7 linked regions of the Homo sapiens genome follow. The protein of the gene in region 7 purifies or fractionates together with the protein of the main gene of each other region. This does not show direct contact. Each region holds a gene or a part of one and is shown on either strand. Other genes may lie near its edges. The genes, in order: RBM42, RCN2, NELFB, ACAP2, SF3A3, TUT7 and POLK.

Evidence for each region.
Region 1: the proteins of POLK (region 7) and RBM42 purify together in Homo sapiens (affinity purification with mass spectrometry, with the first as the bait; one large-scale study listed by BioGRID). This does not show direct contact.
Region 2: the proteins of POLK (region 7) and RCN2 purify together in Homo sapiens (affinity purification with mass spectrometry, with the first as the bait; one large-scale study listed by BioGRID). This does not show direct contact.
Region 3: the proteins of POLK (region 7) and NELFB purify together in Homo sapiens (affinity purification with mass spectrometry, with the first as the bait; one large-scale study listed by BioGRID). This does not show direct contact.
Region 4: the proteins of POLK (region 7) and ACAP2 purify together in Homo sapiens (affinity purification with mass spectrometry, with the first as the bait; one large-scale study listed by BioGRID). This does not show direct contact.
Region 5: the proteins of POLK (region 7) and SF3A3 purify together in Homo sapiens (affinity purification with mass spectrometry, with the first as the bait; one large-scale study listed by BioGRID). This does not show direct contact.
Region 6: the proteins of POLK (region 7) and TUT7 purify together in Homo sapiens (affinity purification with mass spectrometry; one large-scale study listed by BioGRID and IntAct). This does not show direct contact.

Annotation. Positions count from the first base shown.
Region 1 is NC_000019.10:35,635,111-35,638,185, reverse strand, and holds the end of RBM42 (RNA-binding protein 42), read right to left. Parts: intron 1,029-3,075; coding exon 834-1,028; intron 745-833; coding exon 632-744; 3' UTR 501-631; downstream 1-500. UniProt on the Homo sapiens protein: Binds (via the RRM domain) to the 3'-untranslated region (UTR) of CDKN1A mRNA.
Region 2 is NC_000015.10:76,951,821-76,954,893, reverse strand, and holds the end of RCN2 (reticulocalbin-2 isoform a precursor), read right to left. Parts: 3' UTR 501-3,073; downstream 1-500.
Region 3 is NC_000009.12:137,258,327-137,261,826, forward strand, and holds part of NELFB (negative elongation factor B), read left to right. Parts: intron 1-3,500. UniProt on the Homo sapiens protein: Essential component of the NELF complex, a complex that negatively regulates the elongation of transcription by RNA polymerase II.
Region 4 is NC_000003.12:195,436,521-195,440,020, forward strand, and holds part of ACAP2 (arf-GAP with coiled-coil, ANK repeat and PH domain-containing protein 2), read right to left. Parts: intron 1-3,500. UniProt on the Homo sapiens protein: GTPase-activating protein (GAP) for ADP ribosylation factor 6 (ARF6). Doesn't show GAP activity for RAB35.
Region 5 is NC_000001.11:37,973,023-37,976,522, forward strand, and holds part of SF3A3 (splicing factor 3A subunit 3), read right to left. Parts: intron 1-3,500. UniProt on the Homo sapiens protein: Component of the 17S U2 SnRNP complex of the spliceosome, a large ribonucleoprotein complex that removes introns from transcribed pre-mRNAs.
Region 6 is NC_000009.12:86,316,411-86,319,910, forward strand, and holds part of TUT7 (terminal uridylyltransferase 7), read right to left. Parts: intron 3,261-3,500; coding exon 3,174-3,260; intron 2,649-3,173; coding exon 2,548-2,648; intron 867-2,547; coding exon 809-866; intron 1-808. UniProt on the Homo sapiens protein: Uridylyltransferase that mediates the terminal uridylation of mRNAs with short (less than 25 nucleotides) poly(A) tails, hence facilitating global mRNA decay. Essential for both oocyte maturation and fertility.
Region 7 is NC_000005.10:75,605,891-75,608,190, forward strand, and holds part of POLK (DNA polymerase kappa), read left to right. Parts: 3' UTR 1-2,300. UniProt on the Homo sapiens protein: DNA polymerase specifically involved in DNA repair. Plays an important role in translesion synthesis, where the normal high-fidelity DNA polymerases cannot proceed and DNA synthesis stalls.

The sequences.
Region 1 (3,075 bases), on a different chromosome or scaffold from region 7:
CCTCACCCACAGGTCAGCGCCCCCATCCTGCCCTGACCACTCTGGGCTCTTATCGTCAGGGCACCGGGCCTATTTTCTGCACTGGACCTTGAGCTCTAACGGTGCAGGGCCCAGGACTTTTAGTCACCATTGTGTCCTCAAGCACTGTTCAGACCCTTGGTGAGAGTCTGCTGGATGGAAGAGGGCCTAGAAGCCTGTGAGCTCCAGAAGGGAAGGGCCTAGATCTCCTACCTTGGTGCTGAGAACACAGGAAGTAGCCAGGACACGGGGATGGGCCTCAGCTTGGCTTCACCCTTGCCATTGGCCCCCCTTTCTCCTCTGGAATAAGCAGCACTCAGCATGTGTGGAAGAGGTTTGAAGAGGGAATGGGTGCGCAGGAAGGGCTCAGAAGCCCCCGCCTGGGTGTTTGCCTGGGTAAACTCTCAAGGCTCCCCGCCATTTCCAGCTGTGGGGAAGCCAAGCCCTGCTCCCCACAGCGTGCTTCCATGCCCAGCCAGGGGTGGAAATGAACGTAAATTTATTGAAACTGGTTTTGGGGCAGGGGATGGGTGGACAGCTGGGGGTTTTCCAAAGAGAACTGAGGGAGGAGCCAGCGCCCGGCCAGGTGGGAGCGGGTGCCTGGCCACAGACCCTATCTCAGGCCCAGCTTCTTCTTTTCCTTCTGCTTCTTGCGGACCACGTCCAGATTCCGGTCCTTCCACATGCTCTTGCGAAGCTTGATGGGGCGCGAGCCCACATACTTCCCTGTGGAGACAGAGGGTTCAAGGCAGGCTCGGGTCAGGCTTAGGCCAGCGCCTGCCGCGCCTGCAGTTCCCAGGGGAGGCCGCACCCACCATTCATCTCACGCATGGCGCGCACGTAGTCGCTGGGGTCCTTGAAGCTGACGAAGCCGTAGCCCTTGGTCTTGCCTGTGCGCTTGTCACGGATCACCTTGGCCTTAAGGAAGGATGGGAAGCGGCTGAAGGCGCGTGCCAAGATGTCATCGTTCACCTCATTGCCCAGATCCCCACAGAAGATCCGGAAGTCATCTGGGGATGGGGAAGAGATGACATCAGAGGATGCAGAGGCCTTGCCCAGTGTCTACCTTGTCTGAACGATCCCACCTTTTCGGAGGTATCTAGTCTCTGCCTAGGGACCTCTTAGTAATAATGGTCAACACCTACTGACCCTGCGCCAGGAGCTCTGCTGGCACCTGGAGGGGTGTTTCCATTTCTGGCACTCCCAACCATGCTTTTACACTGAGGCACAGAGAGGTGAAGTCACTGCCCACAGTGACACAAGCAGGAAGCGGCAGAGCTAAGACAAGAGCTCAGGCATCTGGCTCCAGTCCTTACTTTTAACCTTGAACTGCACTGCCCTCCCCACCCCAGGGCCACCTCACTCATTCCTGTAGTAACACCCTTAACTCTGCCCTAGCCCTGGCCTTTCCTCTGAGCCTTGGTGTCCCTTGGTCCCCTGGACCCCTGTCACCCACTGGCTGCCCGTCATGGCACCTCAGGAACATGGGCTTCATCTTTCCTCAGCCCTGCTTCCTTGGCAAGGCCTGCCCTAACTCCCCCTTGAGACCTGGACATGCTGCCTGCTCCTCCGCCATGGCTGCACCCAGCTGACATTCTCATGCTGCCTCTGAGTTGGGCCTGTGCTTCCACTGAACATGCTCTGTCCCAATGAATCCCTGTCCCCACAAGGGAGGGGATGAGGAATATGAGGCTTAAAAGGCTAAGTGAGCCAAGCACAGTGGCTCACGCCTGTGATCCCAGCACTTTGGGAGGCTGAGGCAGGTGGATGACTTGAGCTCAAGAGTTCAAGACCAGCCTGACCAACATGGTGAAACTCCATCTCTACTAAACAATACAAAAATTAGCTGGGTGTGGTGGTGGGTGCCTGTAATCCCAGCTACTCGGAAGGCTGAGGTGGGAGAATTGCTTCAACCCAGGAGGCGGAGGCTGCAGTGAGCCAAGATTACACCACTGCACTCCAACCTGGGTGACAGTGCGAGACTCTGTCTCAAAAAAAAGAAAAAAAAAAAAAACAAAAGAAGAAACAAAACAAAACCAGGCTAAGTGACTTGCCCAAGGTCACAGAGCTAGGGTCTTCTCTGGGCCAGGTAGACGGTCCCAGGAGAGGGGGTGGAAGTCAAACACTGAAGCAGGAGGGGTCCATCTCCTTCCTCAGCCATTGCACGGCTGCCCCATGGCGTCTGTGATATGGGACACTCTAAGCACAAGTTAGGCAATGCCAGGAGCAAACAACCGGACAAACTCAGAAGGTGGGACATCATACATGACAACTGCCCTGGACACTTCAAAAAATATGTACAAAACAAAGAGGCAGGAAAGAGACCGTTCTTATTAAGATATAATCGAGGCTGGGCGTGGTGGCTTATGCCTGTAATCCCAGCACTTTGGAAGGCTGAGGCAGGCGGATCACAAGGTCAGGAGTTCGAGACCAGCCTGGCCAGCATGGTGAAACCCCGTCTCTACTAAAAATACCAAAAATTAGCCAAGCATGGTCGTGCGCGCCTGTAGTCCCAGCTATTCGGGAGGCTGAGGCAGGAGAATTACTTGACCCTGGCAGGTGGAGGTTGCAGTGAGCTGCCGAGATTGCGCCACTGCACTCCAGCCTGGGCGATGGAGCAAGACTCCGTTTCAAAAAAAAAAAAGAAAAAAAAAAAGATATAATTGAAGGACATAAAACTGCATGCATGCTGGTTCAGGGCAAAAACATTAATAGTTCTAACAGAGTTTTGGGACACCTAGGGAAATACGAATATAAACTGAAAAGAAGATACCGAATTAGTTAATGTTCTTAGACTTGATAATAGTATTATGATATGCAAAAAGTATCTCTTTTCTTTTTTTTTTTTTTTTTGAGATGGAGTCTTGTTCTGTTGCCAGGCTAGAGTGCAGTGGCCTGATCTCGGCTCACTGCAACCTCTGCCTCCTGGGTTCAGGCGATACTCCTGTCTCAGCCAACCGAGTAGCTGGGATTATAGGTGCCTCCCACCAAGCCTGGCTAATTTTTTTGTATTTTTAGAGACACGGGATTTCACCATGTTGGCCAGGCTGGTCTTGA
Region 2 (3,073 bases), on a different chromosome or scaffold from region 7:
GACAGGCCAGCAGCTGGCACAAAAAGACCTTAGTTTATGCTTTTAGTGTGTCATTGTAATGGAACAGTCTCTCTACTTAGGTTACCAATCACTGCTAATGGTACAATAACTGAGCAAAATGTTGATGCCCTCTGTTCATTGGAACCTGGTCTCAGAAGAAAAATATCTCTGTGGAACAGAAAGCAAAAGTAGGGTTTTTTTCTTTAAGGTATGAAAAATCATGATTAAAAGCTATGAGATTTTTAAAAATCCCCATAATCACTTTAAAATAGTTTTATAAGCTCAAATGGTTTCCTTTCTACAGCTCAGGAACTAACTGGTTAATTTGAGATAAAGATAGGGCAAACTGTAGGTATTCAGCAGTACTTGTTTTTTTTGTGCTTGGATTGAGGTGTTTCCCCCCCCCCCCGCCAAATAAAATAGAGACGTTTTAGTAGCTGCACTGGAGGCCCTTAGGTAATTGGTTACTAGTTATAAAAAATTTTATAGCAGGCAGGAAATCTGGCCAAATATTTATTCGACAGAACTCAAATGTTGCAATGAAGCAAATTAGTTTTTACAGTTGTTTAAAAACTTTTACTCTAAGTGGCTTTCCTAAATCATCTTCCTAAGTGAAAAAGTGTAAGTTTGAGTTGACATTTCTCACTCAAAAGGAGGTATTGTAACACAAAAACGTTTGAGAAACAATAGCATACATTTATCCTCACATTTAAATTGCAAAGGAATGATATTCTGGAACAGGCAAAACTGTAGAGACAGACCATTAGGGAAATGCAAATCAAAGCCACAACGAGATACCACGTCTCACCCAACAGGATGGCTACTATTAAAAAAAAAAAAGAAAAAAAAAAAAACAGAAAATAGCAAGTGTTGGTAAGGATGTAAAGAAACTGGAACTCTTGTGCACTATTGGTGGAAATGCAAAATGGCACAGCTGCTGTGGGAAACACTATGGCAGTTCCTCAAAATATTAAAAATAGAATTACTAGTCGGGCGCGGTGGCTCACGCCTGTAATCCCAGCACTTTGGGAGGCCAAGGCGGGCGGATCACGAGGTCAGCAGATCAAGACCATCCTGGCTAACACGGTGAAACCCCGTCTCTACTAAAAATACAAAAAATTAGCCGGGTGCGGTGGCAGGCGCCTATAGTCCCAGCTACTCGGGAGGCTGAGGCAGGAGAATGGTGTGAACCCGGGAGGCGGAGCCTGCAGTGAGCCGAGATCGCGCCACTGCACTCCAGCCTGGGCGACAGAGCGAGACTCCGTCTCAAAAAAAAAAAAAAAAAAAAAAAAAAAAAAAATATATATATATATATATATATATATATATATATATATAGAATTACTATATGATCCAGCAATCCCACTTCTATGTATAATATATATCCAAAAGAACTAAAAGCAGGATCTCAAAGAAATATTTGTACACCCATATTCATGGCAGCATTATTCACAATAAAAGGTGGAAGCAACCTGTGTCCATCAAAGGGTGAATGGATAAGCAAAATGTGGTATATGCAAACAATAAAGTATTGTTCAGCCTGACGAAAGAAATTCTGGTAACAATATGGGTGAACTTTGGGGACGTTATGCTAAGTGAAGCCACTCACAAAAAGACAAATACTATATGAGTCTATTTTAATAGACACAAACTAGAATGGGGCTGGGCGCGGTGGCTCATGCCCGTAATCTCAGCACTTTGGGAGGCCGAGGCAGGTGGATCACCTGAGGTCAAGAGTTCGAGACCAGCCATGCCAACATGGCGAAACCCCGTCTCTACTAAAAGTACAAAAATTAGCCGGGCGTGGTAGCGGGCATCTATAATCCCAGCTACTTGGGAGGCTGAGGCAGGAGAATCGCTTGAACCTGGGAGGTGGAGGTTGCAGTGAGCCGAGATCGCACCACTGCACTCCAGCCTGGATGACAAGAGTGAGACTCCGTCTCAAAAAAGAAAGAAAAAGAAAACTAGAATGGGAGGCTGGGCACGGTGGCTCACGCCTGTAATTCCAGCACTTTGGGAGGCTGAGGCAGGTGGATCACCTGAGATCAGGAGTTCGAGACCAGCTTGACCAACATGGTGAAACCCCATTTCTACTAAATACAAAAAATTAGGGGGCATGGTGGTGCCCGCCTGTAATCCCACCTAGTCGGGAGGCTGAGGCAGGAGAATCGCTTGACCCCAAGAGACAGAGGTTGCAGTGAGCCGAAATCATGCCATTGCACTCCAGCCTGGGCAACAAGAGCAAGACTCCATCTCAAACAAAAAAACTAGAATGGTGTTTGCCAGGTGCTGAAGGGAAGGGGAAAGGGGGCTTTATTGTTTAATGGGTATAAATTTCCGTTTTACAAATGAAGTTCATGGAGATGGAAGGTGGTAATAGTTTCACATTTTGACTGTATTTAATACCATACCACCGAACTGTACAATTAAAAACTGTTAAGATGAATTTTGTTATGTGTATTTTACTACAATCTAAAAAATTATGAACAGTAAAAAGATCAGTATTGCTTGGGGTTACAGGGAAGGGAGGGATGAATAGGTGGAGCAGAAAGACTTTAGGGCAAGGGAAATATTCTACCACACTACAATGGTGGGAATATGTAATTATACATTTGTCCAAACCCAGAGCATGTGCAGCACCAAGAGTGAACCCTAATGTAAACTATGCACTTTGGGTGACAATGATATGTTAACAGTTTCATCGATTTTAACAAATGTACCACTCTGGTAGGTACTATCTCATGACATATAGGATAGGATAGTGGGGGAGGCTGTACGTATGTGGGGCAGGGGACATATTGAAACTCTCTATACTACTTTTTGCTCAATTTTGCTGTGAACATAAAACTACACTAAAAAAAAAAAAAGCCTATTTTTAAAACTGCAAAGGAAAGAACTAAGTAAGGCAAACATGATATGCTAGCTTTTCCTCTGAACGTCCTGGCTTCCTTTAAATTTATATCATAATCTAGACATCATTTTCTGTCCTGCAAATTGGCCCAATCAGAACTACATATGAGCCAACATGTGCACATCCCATTCAATTTTCCCCTTTGAAGTTGTACCTGAACTC
Region 3 (3,500 bases), on a different chromosome or scaffold from region 7:
TTGCCCAGGCTGGTCTCGAACTCCTGGGCTCAAGTAATCTGTCTGCACACCTCAGCCTCCTGAAGTGCTGGGATTATAGGTGTGAGCGACCACAACTGGTTGTGAGATTTTTTAATTAGCCAATTTTTTTTTTTTTTTTTGAGACAGAGTCTTGCTCTGTCACCCAGACTGGAGTGCAGGGCCTCAATCTCGGCTCACTGTAACCTCTGCCTCCTGAGTTCAAGCAATTCTCCTGCCTCGGCCTCTCGAGTAGCTGAGACTACAGGCGCGCCCCACCATGCCTGGCTAATTTTTTTATTTTTTTGTTTAGTACAGACAGGGTTTCACCATGTTGACCAGGCTGGTCTTGAACTCCTGACCTCAGGTAATCCGCCCACCTTGGCCTCCCAAAGTGCTGGGATTACAAGTGTGAGCCACTGCGCCCGGCCCTAACCAACTTTAAACTAGCACTGTTCAGTGGAAAAAGCGAACTATAAGTTAAGATTTTTCAGCATCCACATTAAGAAAAAAAAATGAGATCAACTTCATTAATGTTTTCTTTGGTCCAGTATATCCAAAATATTATCTTTCAGCATGTAATTCATGTGAAAGATTGGGCTGGGTACGGTGGCTCACGCCTGTACTCCTAGTACTTTGGGAGGCGGAGGTGGGAGGATCGCTTGAGCTTAGTAGTTAAAGACCAAAGGGAGACCTTGTCTCTACAAGAAAAAAAAATTAAGCTAAGCATGGTGGTGCGTACCTGTTGTCTCAACTACTCAGGAGGCTGAAGCAGGAGGATTGCTTAGGCCTCGGATATTGAGGCTGCAGTGAGGTATGATTGAGCCACTGCACTCCAACCTGGGCGACAGAGTGAGAGATCCTGTCTCAAAAGGAAAAAAAAAATATTGAGCTATAATGCTTTTTGCGGGAGGATCACTAAGATTTGAAACCTGGTGAGTCTTTCATGCTTAGAGCCCATCTGAACTACTGCACTTCAAACGCTGAGCAGTTAGTGTGGCTCTGGGTTCCCTTCGGGCCGTGGTTCCTGACCATGTGCGTGGGCAGCAGCAGGCTTGTTGGGGGTGGCAGTGCCACCTCTGTCCTCCCTTCCCTGTTTGTTTATTCCCAGTTAGGTCCTCCATGGGCCTTTTTCTTGTTCCATTGCTGTCAGACAGAGCCCTTGGACCCCTCTGCTAACTGTGGGGTGCCCTGCATTTCCCAGGCCTTTCTCCTATCGCCTGTCTCTTCTGGTGACTTGGTGCTGCCTATACTGATTTCTGTCTGTAAGGGAAATCAGTCGGCTTGGTCGGCTTAGTCCTAGGTTGATTCTCTTTTATTTTTATTTTATTTTATTTTATATATTTTTATCTTGTTTTATTTTACTACTTTTTAAAATTTATTTTTTATTTTTTTATTATTTATTTATTTATTTTTTTGGAGACAGAGTCTTGCTCTGTCACCCAGGCTGGAGTGCAGTGGCACGATCTTGGCTCACTGCAAGCTCCGCCTCCCGGGTTCACTCCATTCTCCTGCCTCAGCCTCCCAAGTAGCTGGGACTACAGGCGCCTGCCACCATGCCCGGCTAATTTTTTGTATTTTTTTTTTTAGTAGAGACGGGGTTTCACAGTGTTAGCCAGGATGGTCTCAATCTCCTGACCTTGTGATCCACCTGCCTCAGCCTCCCAAAGTGTTGGGATTATGGGCGTGAGCCACCGTGCCTGGCCTATTTTTATTTTTATTTATTTTATTTTATTTTATTTTTGAGACAGAATCTTGCTCTGTTGCCCAGGCTGGAGTGCAGTGGTGCAATCTCGGCTCACTGCAAGCTCCGCCTCCCGGGTTCACTCCGTTCTCCTGCCTCAGCCTCCCGAGTGGCTGGGACTACAGGCGCCCACCACCACGCCCAGCTATGTTTTTTGTATTTTTAGTAGAGATGGGGTTTCACCATGTTAGCCAGGATGGTCTCGATCTCCTGACCTCATGATCCACCCGCCTCGGCCTCCCAAAGTGCTGGGATTACGGGCGTGAGCCACTGAGACCGGCTATTTTATTTTATTATTTTTTTTAATTTTTAAAATTTATTTTTTAAAATTTTTTTTATTTATTTTATTTTAATTTTATATTTTGTTTTATTTTATTTTAGTTTGTTTTATTTTTTTTTTTTTGAGACGTAGTGTCCTTCTGTTGCCCAGGCTGGAGTGCAGTGGTGTGATCTCAGCTCACTGCAACCTCAGTCTCCCAGGTTCAAGTGATTCTCCTGCCTCAACCTCCCGAGTAGCTGGGATTACAGGCACCCACCACCACGCCCGACTAATTTTTGTATTTTTAGTAGAGATGGGGTTTCACCATGTTGGCCAGGCTGTTCTCGAACTCCTGGCCTCAGGTAGTCCACCCACCTTGGGCTCCCAATTTGCTGCAATTACAGGTGTGAGCCACCGTGCCCAGCCCGATTCTCTTTTAAAAAGCTAAATTAGGCCGGGTGCGGTGGCTCACGCCTGTAATCCCAGCACTTTGGGAGGCAGAGGTGGGTGGATCACGAGGTCAGGAGTTCGAGACCAGCCTGACCAACATGGTAAAAACCCATCTCTACTAAAAATACAAAAATTAACCAGACCTGGTGGTGTGCGCCTGTAGTCCCAGCTACTCAGGAGGCTGAGGCAGGAGAATCACTTGAACCCGGGAGGTGGAGGTTGCAGTTAGCCAAGATTGCGCCACTGTACTAGGCGACAGAGTGAGACTCAGTCGCAAAAAAAAAAGCTGGGCGCAGTGACTCACGCCTGTAATCCCAGCACTTTGGGAGGCCGAGGCGGGTGGATCATGAGGTCAGGAGATCGAGACCATCCTGGCTAACATGGTGAAACCGCATCTACTAAAAATACAAAAAATTAGCTGGGCGTGGTGGTGGGTGCCTGTAGTCCCAGCTGCTCGGGAGGCCGAGGCAGGAGAATGGTGTGAACCTGGGAGGTGGAGCTTGCAGTGAGCTGAGATCACGCCACTGCACTCCAGCCTGGGTAACAGAGCACGACTCGGTTTCAAAAAAAAAAAAAAAAAGTAAAAAAAAAAAAAAACTGGGTCAGGTGTGTGGCTCATGCCTGCAATCCTAGCACTTTGGGAGGCCGAGGTGGGTGGATCACCTGAGCTCAGAAGTTCAAGACCAGCCCGGGCAACATGGTGAAACCCCGTCTCTACTACAATACAAAAAATTAGCCAGTCATGGCAGCCGGCGCCTGTAATCCCAACTACTTGGGAAGCTGAGACAGGAGAATAGCTTGAATCCGGGAGGTGGAGGTTGCAGTGAACCAAGATCTTGCCATTGCACTCCAGCCTGGGTGACAGCGCAAGACTCCGTCTCAAAAAAAAAAAAAAAAAAAATTGATTGGGTGTAGGGACCAGCCCCACAGGGTTGATGGGTTTTTCTCCCCGTGTGCGGAGATGAGAGATTGTAGAAGTAAAGACACAAGGCAAAGAAATGAAAAGACAGCTGGGCCCGGGGGACCATTACCACCAAGACGCGGAGACTG
Region 4 (3,500 bases), on a different chromosome or scaffold from region 7:
CTGTTTGCATGGTTTGTCTTTTACTTTCAACCTATTTATGTCCTTAAATCTAAAGTATGTCTCTTCCTAAATACCATATAGTTGAATCATCCCTGAAATTTTAATAAGGCCAAATAATAAAAAGTTTTAAATAAATAAGGCCAAAATACATAGAAAGACATATCCTCTTCTGAAATTGAAGAAAAAAGTACTGTAAAGACTAAATATGTAAAACATATAACAAGAGGAAATTTGTCCTCCCGCACATCACAAAAGGGATGTGCGATTCATTTTAAATCAATGAAGAATGAATTTTTTTTAAAGGTGTTAGAACAAGTGGTTTTCATTAGGAAGAAAATAAAATTAGATTATCTGCTACAATCAAAACTAAGACCCAGTTGCATTACATGAAACTTAAAATCACTATAAAATGACAGAAAAATATAATGGGGTAGGGAAACTTTGCTAGGCAATAAACAAAAGCCAGCTTTTAAATTTCTATATGATAAAAGACACCATAAACAACGCAAATTTAACTGACACAATATTTAATAATTTTTTTTAAAGAGACAGGGTCTTGCTCTGTCTTCCAAGGTGGAGTACAGTGGCATCACCATAGCTCACTGTAACCTCAAACTCCAGGGCATCACAATCCTCCTGCCTCAGCCTCCTGAGTAGCTGGGACTACAGGCGTGGGCCACATTTGGCTAATTTTTTTTTTTTTGTAAAGACAGGGTCTCACTCTGTTGCCTAGGTTGATTTCAAACTCCTGGCCTCAAGTGATCCTCCCTCCTCAGCCTCCTGAACTGTTGAGATTATAGCATAAGCTACTGCACCCAGCCTAACAAATGAAATTAAAGCCTTTGGCTTAACATATAGAGTAAATGAGTGAATTCTCTTCCAGGACCACCATGTGAAAGTTCACCATTAAGAAAGTCAATTACTAGCAAAAGAAGTAACTATTTTTAAAAAGTCAATTAATCTATCAAAATGTCCAGTTGCAGATTTTTCCGGATTTTTTAAAACATTTTTGAGTCTGGTCGAGGTGGCTCACACCTGCAATCCCAGCATTTTGGGAGGCCGAAGCTGGTGGATCACAAGGTCAGGAGTTCAAGACCAGCCTGGCCAACATAGTGAAACCCCGTCTCTACTAAAAATATAAAAAATTAGCCAGGTGTGGTGGCAGGCGCCTGTAATCCCAGCTACTCGGGAGGCTGAGGCAGGAGAATCACCTGAACCAGGGAGGTGGAGGTTGCAGTGAGTGGAGATTGCACCACTGCACTCCAGCCTGGGCGACAGTGTGAGACTCTGTCTCAAAAAAAAAAAAAAAAAAAAGCAAAAAAAAACCCACATTTTTAAAATGAGGATAAGTCCTACTTTACATGCTTTTTTTTTTTTTTTTTTTTCATTAAAATTAGAGACAAGGTCTCTATGTTGCCCAGGCTGGTCTCAGGCAATCCTTCCACCTCGACCTCACAAAGTGCTGGGATTACAAATGTAAGCCATTGCGCCCCACCTGCAAGAATTTTCTTTTTTTTTTTTTTGAGATGGAGTCTCACTCTGTCCCCCAGGCTGGAGTGCAGTGGCGCAATCTCAGCTCACTGCAACCTCTGCCTCCCAGGTTCAAGCAATTCTCCTGCCTCAGCCTCCCGAGTAGCTGGGATTACAGGTGCCCACCATCACGCCCACCTAATTTTTTTGTATTTTTAGTAGAGATGGTGTTTCACCATGCTGGCCAGGCTGGTTTCGAACTCCTGACCTCAACTGATCTGCCCACCTCAGCCTCCCAAAGTGCTAGGATTACAGGTTTGAGCCACCACACCCAGTCAGGATTCCTGTATTTTGGTTCATAATAAAATTACTTTATAATTCCATTCTACTGCTTCTGAGATTAAAAAAAAAAAAAATTTCCCCTCAGCCCTTACCCACTGTATTAACAGGCAGTTGCTAAAAGTTTATTATAAAGATGGAAGGCAAAGGAAGGAGACAAGATTGGCACCAATCCAGACTTAATAGCAACACATAACTGAGGTGTATTTAGTAGTCACATTTTATTCCAATGTCTTTCGCCCATTAAAACCTTTCACCTGACTGGGCATGGTGACTCATACCTGTAATCCCAGCTACTCAGGAGGCTGCGGCAGGAGAATCACCTGAGTCCAGGAGTTGGAGAACAGCCTGGATAACAAGTAAGACTCTGTCTCTCAAACATAATTCACCCACAAACACCCTTTTTAAAAAAAAAGTTATTCTAAGTTACTGAACAAGAATCGTATCTAGCCGGGCATGGTGGCTTATGCCTGTAATCCCAGCACTTTGGGAGGCTGAGGCGGGCGGATCACCTGAGGTCAGGAGTTCGAGACCAGCCTGGCTAACATGGTGAAACTCCGTTTCTACTAAAAATACAAAAAATTAGCCAGGCGTGGAGGTGCACGCCTATAATCCCAGTTACTCGGGAGGCTGAGGCAGGAGAACTGCTTGAACCCAAGAGCCGGAGGGTGCAGTGAGCCGACATCGTGCCATTGCACTCCAGCTTGGGCAACAAGAGCAGAACTCTATCTCAAAAAAAAAAAGAATCATATCTGAAATAGAATCTAAAAATGAAAAACCTGCAGGATGGTGTATGATAGACATTGTTAAAGGATAAAAATAAATTATCAGATAAAAACTAAAGCATACCAAGGCTAAGGCCTTTTTTTTTTTTTTTTTAAGAGAGAGAGAGAGAGTCTAGCTCTGTTGCCCAGGCTGGAGTGCAGAGGTGTGAACATAACTCACTGCAGCCTTGACCTCCTGCCTCAGCTTCCCATGTAGCTGGAATCACAGATGCACGCCACCATGCCCAACTAATTTTTTTATTTTTGTAGAGACGGTGTCTCACTTTGTTGCCCAGGCTGGTCTCAAACTCCTGGCCTCAAGCGATCCTCTTGTCTCAGCCTTCCAAACTGCTGGGATTACAGGCATGAACCACTGCACCTGGCCACAATATTTTTATACTTGAACACTGCTGACAAAAATCTTTCATAATTCAGAAAGATGTTTATTTATTCAATTTATTTATTCTACTTTTTATTTCAAATAGATATTCACTTCCTAAGTAAAACAGAATACATTTTGGGTTTTTTTGTTTTTTTTGTTTTTTTTGTTTTTGAGACAGTCTCGCTCTGTTGCCCAGGCTGGAGTACAGTGGCACAACCTCAGCTCACTACAGCCTCTGCCTCCCAGGTTCAAGCAGTTCTCATGCCTCAGTCTCCCAAGTAGCTGGGATTACAGGTGCACACTACCACACCCGGCTAATTTTTGTATTTTTAGTAGAGATGGGGTTTTACCATGTTGGCCAGGCTGGTGTCAAACTCCTGACCTTAAGTGATCCGCCGTCCTCCACCTCCCAAAGTGCTGGGATTACAGATGTGAGCCACAGTGTTCAGCCCAAGAGTATGTTTAAGTAAAAGAAAAGCAGTACTTTTACGGAGGTTTTGTAAAATTTTAAAGACCTACTACATGCAACTACATACAATTAAGGG
Region 5 (3,500 bases), on a different chromosome or scaffold from region 7:
CACAAAATTAACTGGGCATGGTGGCACATGCTTGTAGTCCCAGCTACTCGGGAGGCTGAGGCAGGAGAATCGCTTGGAACCAGGAGGTGGAGGTTGCAGTGAGCTGGGATCATGCCACTACACTCCAGCCTGGGCGACAGAGTGAGACTCTGTCTCCAACAAAAAAAAGAAAAAGAAAAAGAAAAAAAGACTTAAATGTTAAACCTAAAACCATAAAAACCCTAGAAGAAAACCTAGGCAATACCATTCAGGCCATAGGCATGGGCGAGGACTTCATGACTAAAACACCAAAAGCAATGGCAAAAAAAAGCCAAAACTGACAAATCGGATGTAATTACACTAAAGAGCTTCTGCACAGCAAAAGAAACTACCATCAGAGTGAACAGGCAACCTACAGAATGGGAGAAAATGTTTACAATTTACCCATCTGACAAAGGGCTAATATCCAGAATCTACAAAGAACTACAAAGAATCTACAAAGAGAAATGCAAATCAAAACCACAATGAGATACCATCTCACACCAGTTAGAATGGCGATGATTAAAAAGTCAGGAAACAACAGGTGCTGGAGAGGATGTGGAGAAACAGGAACGCTTTTACACTGTTGGTGGGACTGTAAACTAGTTCAACCATTGTGGAAGACAGTGTGGCGATTCCTCAAGGATCTAGAACTAGAAATACCATTTGACCCAGCCATCCCATTACTGGGCATATATCCAAAGGATTGTAAATAATGCTGCTATAAAGACACATGCACACTTACGTTTATTGCAGCACTAGTCACAATAATAAAGACTTGGAACCAACCCAAATGTCCATCAATAATAGACTGGATTAAGAAAATGTTGCACATATACACCATGGAATACTATGCAGCCATAAAAAAGGATGAGTTCGTGTCCTTTGTAGGGACATGGATGAAGCTAGAAACCATCATTCTGAGCAAACTATCGCAAGGACAGAAAACCAAACACCGAATGTTCTCACTCATAGGTGGGAATTGAACAATGAGAATACTTGGACACAGGGTGGGGAACATCACACATCGGGACCTGTTGTGGGGTTGGAGGACGGGGGAGGGATAGCATTAGGAGATATACCTAATGTAAATGACGAGTTAACGGGTGCAGCACACCAACATGGCACATGTACACATATGTAACAAACCTACACGTTGTGCACATGTACCCTAGAACTTAAAGTATAAAAAAAAATTAAAAAAAAAATATTTCCTTAACCAGGACTTTCTTCTCCTTTCCTCACCAAGATGACCACTTTTTTTTTTTTTTTTTTTTTTTGAGATGGAGTCTTGCTCTGTCGCCCAAGCTGGAGTGCAGTGGCGCAATCTCGGCTCACTGCAACCTCTGCCTCCTGGGTTCATGCCATTCTCCTGCCTCAGCCTCCCGAGTAGCTGGGACTACAGATGCCCGCCACTATGCCTGGCTAATTTTTTATACTTTTAGTAGAGACAGGGTTTCACAGTGTTAGCCAGGATGGTCTCGATCTCCTGACCTTGTGATCTGCCCGCCTTGGCCTCACAAAGGGCTGGGATTACGGGCATGAGCCACTGCGCCCGGCCCAAGATGACCACTTTCTAACTTGCCTTGAGTCTCTCCTCATTCCAATCCAATTTCCATTTTGCTACCAGGTTTATCTGTTTAAAAACCCAAATCTGTAGTGGCACGCTATCCTACTTAAGAGAACTTTTATTGGCTTCCTACTGCTTATAAGGCAAAGTCCAAATTTCCAACATAACTCTCTGACAGAGTTTTCTCCGACCATTCCCTCCCTCATAAGCCATATTCCACACACACTGCATTTCTCATTTCCTGAACATATAATTTTATCTAATACTGTTGTATCTTTGTGTTTGCTGTTTCCTCTACCAGAAACTTTTTCTTCTCCCTTCTCTCTTTCTACTTAGAAGACTCAACCTCACTTTATTCAGGTATGTATCACATTATATTGTAATTATTTGTCTCCCCTAACCACAAAATGAGTTTCTTAAGGGCAAGAGGCTGTGTCTTATTCACTATTGTATCAAAAAAATTTGCATAATGTCCAAAAACCAACAGACATCAACAAATGGTATAATAATGGCAAAAATCTTATCAGTTCATAGTGAGAGCAACTTCTGGAAAGTATTTGGCTAGAACTGGTTGGAATTCCGAAGAGAATAGTGCCATCTCCTGGCAGGGAAAGCAAAATGCTCTTAAAGGATGGAGAGGCCGTCGAGTGGCTCCAGCACTTTGGGAGGCCAAGGCAGGCGGATCACTTGAGGCCAGGAATTCAAGACCAGCCTGGCCAACAAGACAAAACCCTGTCTCTACCAAAAATACAAAAATTAGCCAGGTGTGGTGGCACACACCTGTAGTCCCAGCTACCAGGGAGGCTGAGGCACAGGAATCACTTGAACCCAGGAGGCGGAGGTTGCAGTGAGCTGAGATCCCGCCACTGCACTCCAGCCTGGGTGACAGAGTGAGATACTATTTCAAAAAAAAAAAAGAGGGAGAAAGTGGTGGACAAATCTCATGTCAAGGGCATGAGTGGCCTCCCAGCCACTCACAAGACTGGCAATTCAGCCTGCTGTCCACACTAGCACAGCCCAAGTTCACAGCGGAGAATATATCTCTCCAATGTCCAATGTCTAGCTAGCCTTTTACTGAAAGCAGTCATAACAGAATCACAGGTGACTAGTTCTACAGCTATTATACGAATGGTCCTCAAAGGCCGAATGAAAATGTCCACGGCAATTAACAAAAATATGTGAACAAGCTATCTGATCCAGAGCCATCCACTCAACGGACCATGCGAGTATGTGTAAAGGGAAAGGCTCTGAGAGTTAAAAATTGGGCTGGGCGCGGTGGCTCACGCCTGTAATCCCAGCACTTTGGGAGGCCGAGGCAAGCGGATCACGAGGTCAGGATTTCGAGACCAGCCTGACCAATATGGTGAAACCCTGTCTCTACTAAAAATACAAAAAACTAGTCGGGCGTGGTGGCGCATGCCTGTAGTCCCAGCTAGTCAGGAGGCTGAGGCAGGAGACTTGCTTGAACCCTGGAGGTGGAGGTTGCAGTGAGCCCGGATTACACCACTGTACTCCAGCCTGGGTGACAGAGCAAGACTCTGTCTCAAAAAAAAAAAAAAAACTGTACACAGCAGACACAATCAGAAAGGCTGGTCTTCTGAAGGACTCCAGAGACACTGATCATCTTTTCTGGATGAGTGCTGCCCTTTCTTCCACTTTTTCTTCCTGGAAAGAGATTTCTTTTCCTCCTACTCCTCTCCCTGCTTTCTCTCTGAGACAAGCATACTGGTCAGGCTAGGCCTTTCTCTACCCCAACCCACACTTCAGCTCCTCCTGAAATATTCAAGAACATTCACTGCCAGCTTTGTACTAATAATATTCTAGCCCTACTAAGTTTCTCATAATCTTATGAACATGTAAGTTGACTTACATGAGATGACTTATGAAAATGCCTTTTCATAAGTCATAACTG
Region 6 (3,500 bases), on a different chromosome or scaffold from region 7:
AACCTAGCAAGATCCCATTTCTTAAAAAAAGAGATCGCTTCAAGTGAAGGACTTGTTCAGGGTCATATACAGCTTGTTGAGCAGAACAGCTGCAAATTCAACCCACAAGCCCAGTCCGGGGTGCTTTCCTTGACACTTCACACAATTAGCAACTCCTACACTTTGACTTATACAACGCCAACAAAGGAAAAGGATTTATAGCCTTTCTTGCCTGTCTGGCGTAGGCTTTGTCTTGAAATAAAACTGAGCTAGGCAACAATATGCATATAAATTATCACCAATTCCTCAGTCTTTCATACTTACGCATACAAGATTTTAAAAAGACATTAATATTGCAATTATTCTATGAATGAGCCACTATACTGCTTCATGGCATTAATAAACTCTAAATACAATTGGCCTTTCATGTCTGTGGGTCCTGCATCCCCATATCCAATCAAACACAAACCAAAAATATTTAAGAGAAAAAAGCAACTAATAAAAAACTAACGATACAACAATAAAAAAATACAAATAAAAAATACAGTATAACAACTATTTACATAGTATTTACACTGTATTAGGTATTATAAGTAACCTAGAGATGACTAAAACTATATGGAAGGATGCATATAGGTTATATGTAAATACTATGCCATTTTATATAAGGAACTTGAGCATCTAAGGATTTTTTTTATCTGCTGGGGAAGGGAGGGTTGAGGGGTGATGGGTGGGCCTGGAACAAATACCCCATGGATACCAAGGGAAGACTATAGAAAACACTAATTAAAAAGTCAGAAATATTTTTAGAAAAAGTTTACAGAGGTACCTGAATGTTTTCTGAGGACTCTTGCTAATTCTTCAATAGTTCTGACACAGTCCAATCCCTACAACAAAGAAGGCATAAAGAACTTAACCAAAACTGGAAGACAGGTTCTGAAACTGGCTATAGTTTCCATTACCTTCAGAAATAATGTAATTAATTTCAAGTCAGTCTATATCTATTTTTTTCCTTTCTAGTTGGGTATTAGAGTCAGTATTCACAGGAAATATCCTGACGGTACAAAAACCACTAAATACCCTACTTCCTAATTGTTTTTGGGTGTGCAACAAAGGCTAAAATCAGTCAGGAAGCTTATGGACCTAGGGCTTCCAAAAAAGTCTCTGAACCATGGTTGAGGACCTTCATTTCTTCCCCTCCACATAATATCACTCGGATGTACCCCATGTCCCAGAATAAATGAGAGGAGGCTTCTGTGCCCCAGCTCATTCATTCTAAGCAGACCTTCTATAGTTTAAGAGTTGATGAATTGCTGTGGAGAGTGATTAAGCTCAAATTATTTCCCTATAGGACTAGCCAGAATTATAATGCATATAACTAAAGTCATACAGCAAATATAAATAGTATTTGATAAATCATTCTTAAAAACATTTGGGCTGACTCAACATACGCCTTTTTGATGGTTATAAAAATCCCAGAACATACGTGGAATGTTACTTTAGAAATGCCCTCAAAACTAGTTTATAAGCCATGTAAAAAAATAAATAAATAAATAAACCTTGAGGATGTATGATAGGGTCATTCCATATGTTGAGCCAATCTTGCTTATATACTTTATTCAAATTCAGGCTAGATCACTTTTGACTATTTTCCCAAATCAGATACATCCTCAAAATAGAAAGACTTGAAACTAAGAAAAGGTACAAAAAGGTCTTCAGCAACAGCAGCATCATTCATTTGGATATTTAGCATTTGGACTGCTGTTAAGGATTTAAAAGAATAGGGACTCAGCACTTCCTAGACTTTATACCTTTATATAGTGTTTTATATTTTATAAATGCCTTCAGATATCCCAGGGGCTGGCAAGTTTGTTTTGCTTTGCACGCCATATGGTCTCTTACAACTACTAAACTCTGTACTTAAGAGTGAAGGCAGCCATAGACATTACATATGTGAATGGGTGTGATTCTGTCCCAATAAAACTTTATTTACAAAAACAGGCAGTGGGGGGCTGAATTGCCCAAGGGCCATCGTTTGCTAACTCCTGACCCACATGATCCATGATAATGTGTACAAAAATCAGCGGAGGCAGGAGGAACAGATATTATACTTTATCGATTATTTACCAAAGACCACATGTTTAGGTACTGATGAAACAAGTTTGTCTCAAATCCAGGCCTCTGGACTCTAAGGTTAGTACTCTTATGATTTACCACACTGCCTGTCTGGTAACAAACTTTACAGGTAACCTTATGTGAGTGTGTGATCCAAGTCAGCATAGTAGCCAAGCCAATGGGACACTGAAGAGGCTGGTTTGGCTATGTAGAATTCCCAGGCAACACTTTCCAATCCACTTTTTGCTACAGAGTGAAAGTATAACCTTTCTGCTCCTCACATTCCTCACAACCTTTCCAAGCCTCTTAATGTATTTGGCCAGAGACTGTGCCAAACAGCACACTCTATATGGTATGCCCTGATAAATTTGGAAAATACCAAGCTGTAATGCCAGTCTAGATTGGTTAAATCACACTGCCACAGCAAATGGAAGTTTTATGTGGTCACTGTACCTCAGCAGTTTCAAGTCCATTAATTGTCATACAGACGTCAAGGTCACTCTGTTTGAACCCAAATCCATTTTTGGAGGAGCCAAACAGGCTCAATTTAGTTCCTGTTAGGGATATATGAAAAGTAATAACTAATTACCTGAGTACATTTAATTTTTGATCAAAATGGCCCTCTCATGAATCAAAAACACCCAGTTGTTTAATTATCCTATATTAATCTCATACTTATGTTCTCTGATTAACTGGTCATTTATGCTAAAGTCTTTTTCTCTCAAAGCTTCCTTTACATACAAGCTGTATATGGCAAGAAAGATTACCAGGTGCTCCTTTATTCTTAAATGCAAAGACATTTCAAGGAAAATGTTAGATCACCTCAACACATTTAATAATGTAAGCTTAACTTTGACTCTAAACATAGTATTAAATGAAATTCACTTATGGCACTTGCTAGAATAAACCCTACACTGTTTCTGTTGGTAAATGAGGATTTGGCAGACCAAGGACCATCCTGGGTATATTGCAAAACAATGGAAATCCTGATTCTCAAAATCAGTGTGCTTGTAACACATGAACTGATTTGGAAAAAAGGTTACACTACTTTTCTTAAAAATAAAAAATAAATCATTTACCTGGAAAGTCCTGTCTTATGAAACTTTCTAGGTTTTGCCGAATATGTTCACGAGCCTGATCTTCTATAATTGTTGGAGAAAAATCCTCTGTTTAAAAATAAATAGACATATTGACAAAATAAGCCGGTTGACACTCTTAGAAAAAGCTGAAAAAAATTTATTTTTTAGAAAATAAAACTTACAAGCTTAAATTTAAAAATTCCTAAATCATTGTGTCTTCTCAGTAGATAGCATTAACAAGGTAAAGTTTGTTTTTTATTTATTTTTGAGATAAGGTCTGGTTCTGTCGGCCAGGCTGCAGTGCAGTAGTGTGATCTTAGCTTACTG
Region 7 (2,300 bases):
ATTTGGAAAAGAAAAAGACACAGAGACAAAGTATAGAGAAAGAAATAAGGGGAACCGGGGAACCAGCGTTCAGCATATGGAGGATCCCGCCAGCCTCTGAGTTCCCTTAGTATTTATTGATCATCTGTGGGTGTTTCTCAAAGAGGGGGATGTGTCAGGGTCACAAGACAATTGTGGGGAGAGGGTCAGCAGACAAACACGTGAACAAAGGTCTTGGCATCATAGACAATGTAAAGGATTAAGTGCTGTGCTTTTAGATATGCATACACATAAACATCTCAGTGCTTTACAAAGCAGTATTGCTGCCCGCAGGTCCCACCTCCAGCCCTAAGGCGGTTTTTCCCTATCTCAGTAGATGGAGCATACAATCGGGTTTTATACCGAGACATTCCATTGCCCAGGGACAGGCAGGAGACAGATGCCTTCCTCTTGTCTCAACTGCAAGAGGCATTCCTTCCTCTTTTACTAATCCTCCTCAGCACAGACCCTTTACGGGTGTCGGGCTGGGGGACGGTCAGGTCTTTCCCTTCCCACGAGGCCATATTTCAGACTATCACATGGGGAGAAACCTTGGACAATACCTGGCTTTCCTAGGCAGAGGTCCCTGCGGCCTTCCGCAGTTTTTGTGTCCCTGGGTACTTGAGATTAGGGAGTGGTGATGACTCTTAAGGAGCATGCTGCCTTCAAGCATCTGTTTAACAAAGCACATCCTGCACCGCCCTTAATCCATTCAACTCTGAGTTGACACAGCACATGTTTCAGAGAGCACGGGGTTGGGGGTAAGGTCACAGAATCTCAAGGCAGAAGAATTTTTCTTAGTACATAACAAAATGGAGTCTCCTATGTCTACTTCTTTCTACACAGACACAGTAACAATCTGATCTCTCTTGCTTTTCCCCACAGCAAAGCAATTTGCATGCTCAGCCTTGGCACTGGTTGGAAGGAGGGACTGCCAGTGAGAATTTGAACCATAAACCAGTACACATGTAGGCTTGTAATCTGAATTCACACAAATGGTATCATCCTAAAGAGCTCAAGCAGAAAATGTAATTAAAGTGAGGTTAGTATTGCCCCTAGTGACTGGCAGAAGCATATGCAAATCCTCTATGGAAGAACTCAACTTCAATTCAGGCAGACAACTTAGTATCTCAATTAAAAAGATGTGATAATGTGAAAAATAGGTGTTACAGAATTGATGACTACAATGTATCTCCCATCCTTGAAGCTCACACCCTCCCAGCTAGGGGTAGCCATGTGACTGAGTTTTGACTAATGGGATATAAAAGGAAGTACTGGCCGGGTGCGGTGTCTCACGCCTGTAATCTCAGCACTTTGGGAGGCCAAGGCGGGTGGATCACCTGAGGTCAGGAGTTCGAGACCAGCCTGGCCAAGATGGTGAAACCCCGTCTCTACTCAAAATACAAAAAAGTAGCTGGGCGTGGTGGCACACACTTGTGATCCCAGCTACTCAGGAGGCTGAGGCAAGAGAATCGCTTGAACCCGGGAGACGGAGGTTGCAGTGAGCTGAGATTGCACCACTGCACTCCAACCTGGGTGACAAAGCGAGACCTTGTCTCAAAAAAAAAAAAAAAAAAAGGAAGTACTGTGTGTGGTTGCTTCTGGGAACCTTCCTTTCTTGCAGCTGTAGCATTCTGTTTGCCTCTTCTTTCTATTTCTCTGTTCCATCCTGCTGCCTGGAAGCAGATGCTGCCGTTTACACCTGAACATAAGGGTTGCACAGGGGGATGGTAGAGTAGTGGGCTGCAGGGGCTGATTCTTGGGGCTTTGTAAAACAGAGACATATCAGCACTGGCCTGCACACTTTGAGACTTTCACAAGAAACAAATTAAAAAATTGTTTAAGCCATAGTTACTTGGGTTTTCCTATTAATTATAGCTGAATCCTAGCTGATAAAGGACATAAAGATTATTAAGACATGTTTGTCCTCAAAAAATGGAGAGCCACCCCAGGGACAGTTTCTATTCAATGTAGGGAGGGCTATAATAGATGAATATACAAAGTGGGAGTCTAGGGAGAAATCGTCTGGTAGAGGAGGGCAAAGAGAAATCTAGGAAGATGTTTTTAAAAATATGGAATCCTTGAACAGGACCTGGTTTTAAAGGTTTACTTCAGAATTGAACATATTTTTTTAGTCTAGACCTTTAGGGGAAAAACTTAAAGCTTTCAGGACTCAAAGACAAGTTACTGTTCCCATGGCTAAATTGCATTCCATATTTATTTGACAAATACTTATTGCAGGTCGGGTACTGTTTTAGCCACTGGAGATGCAGTAAGAAACT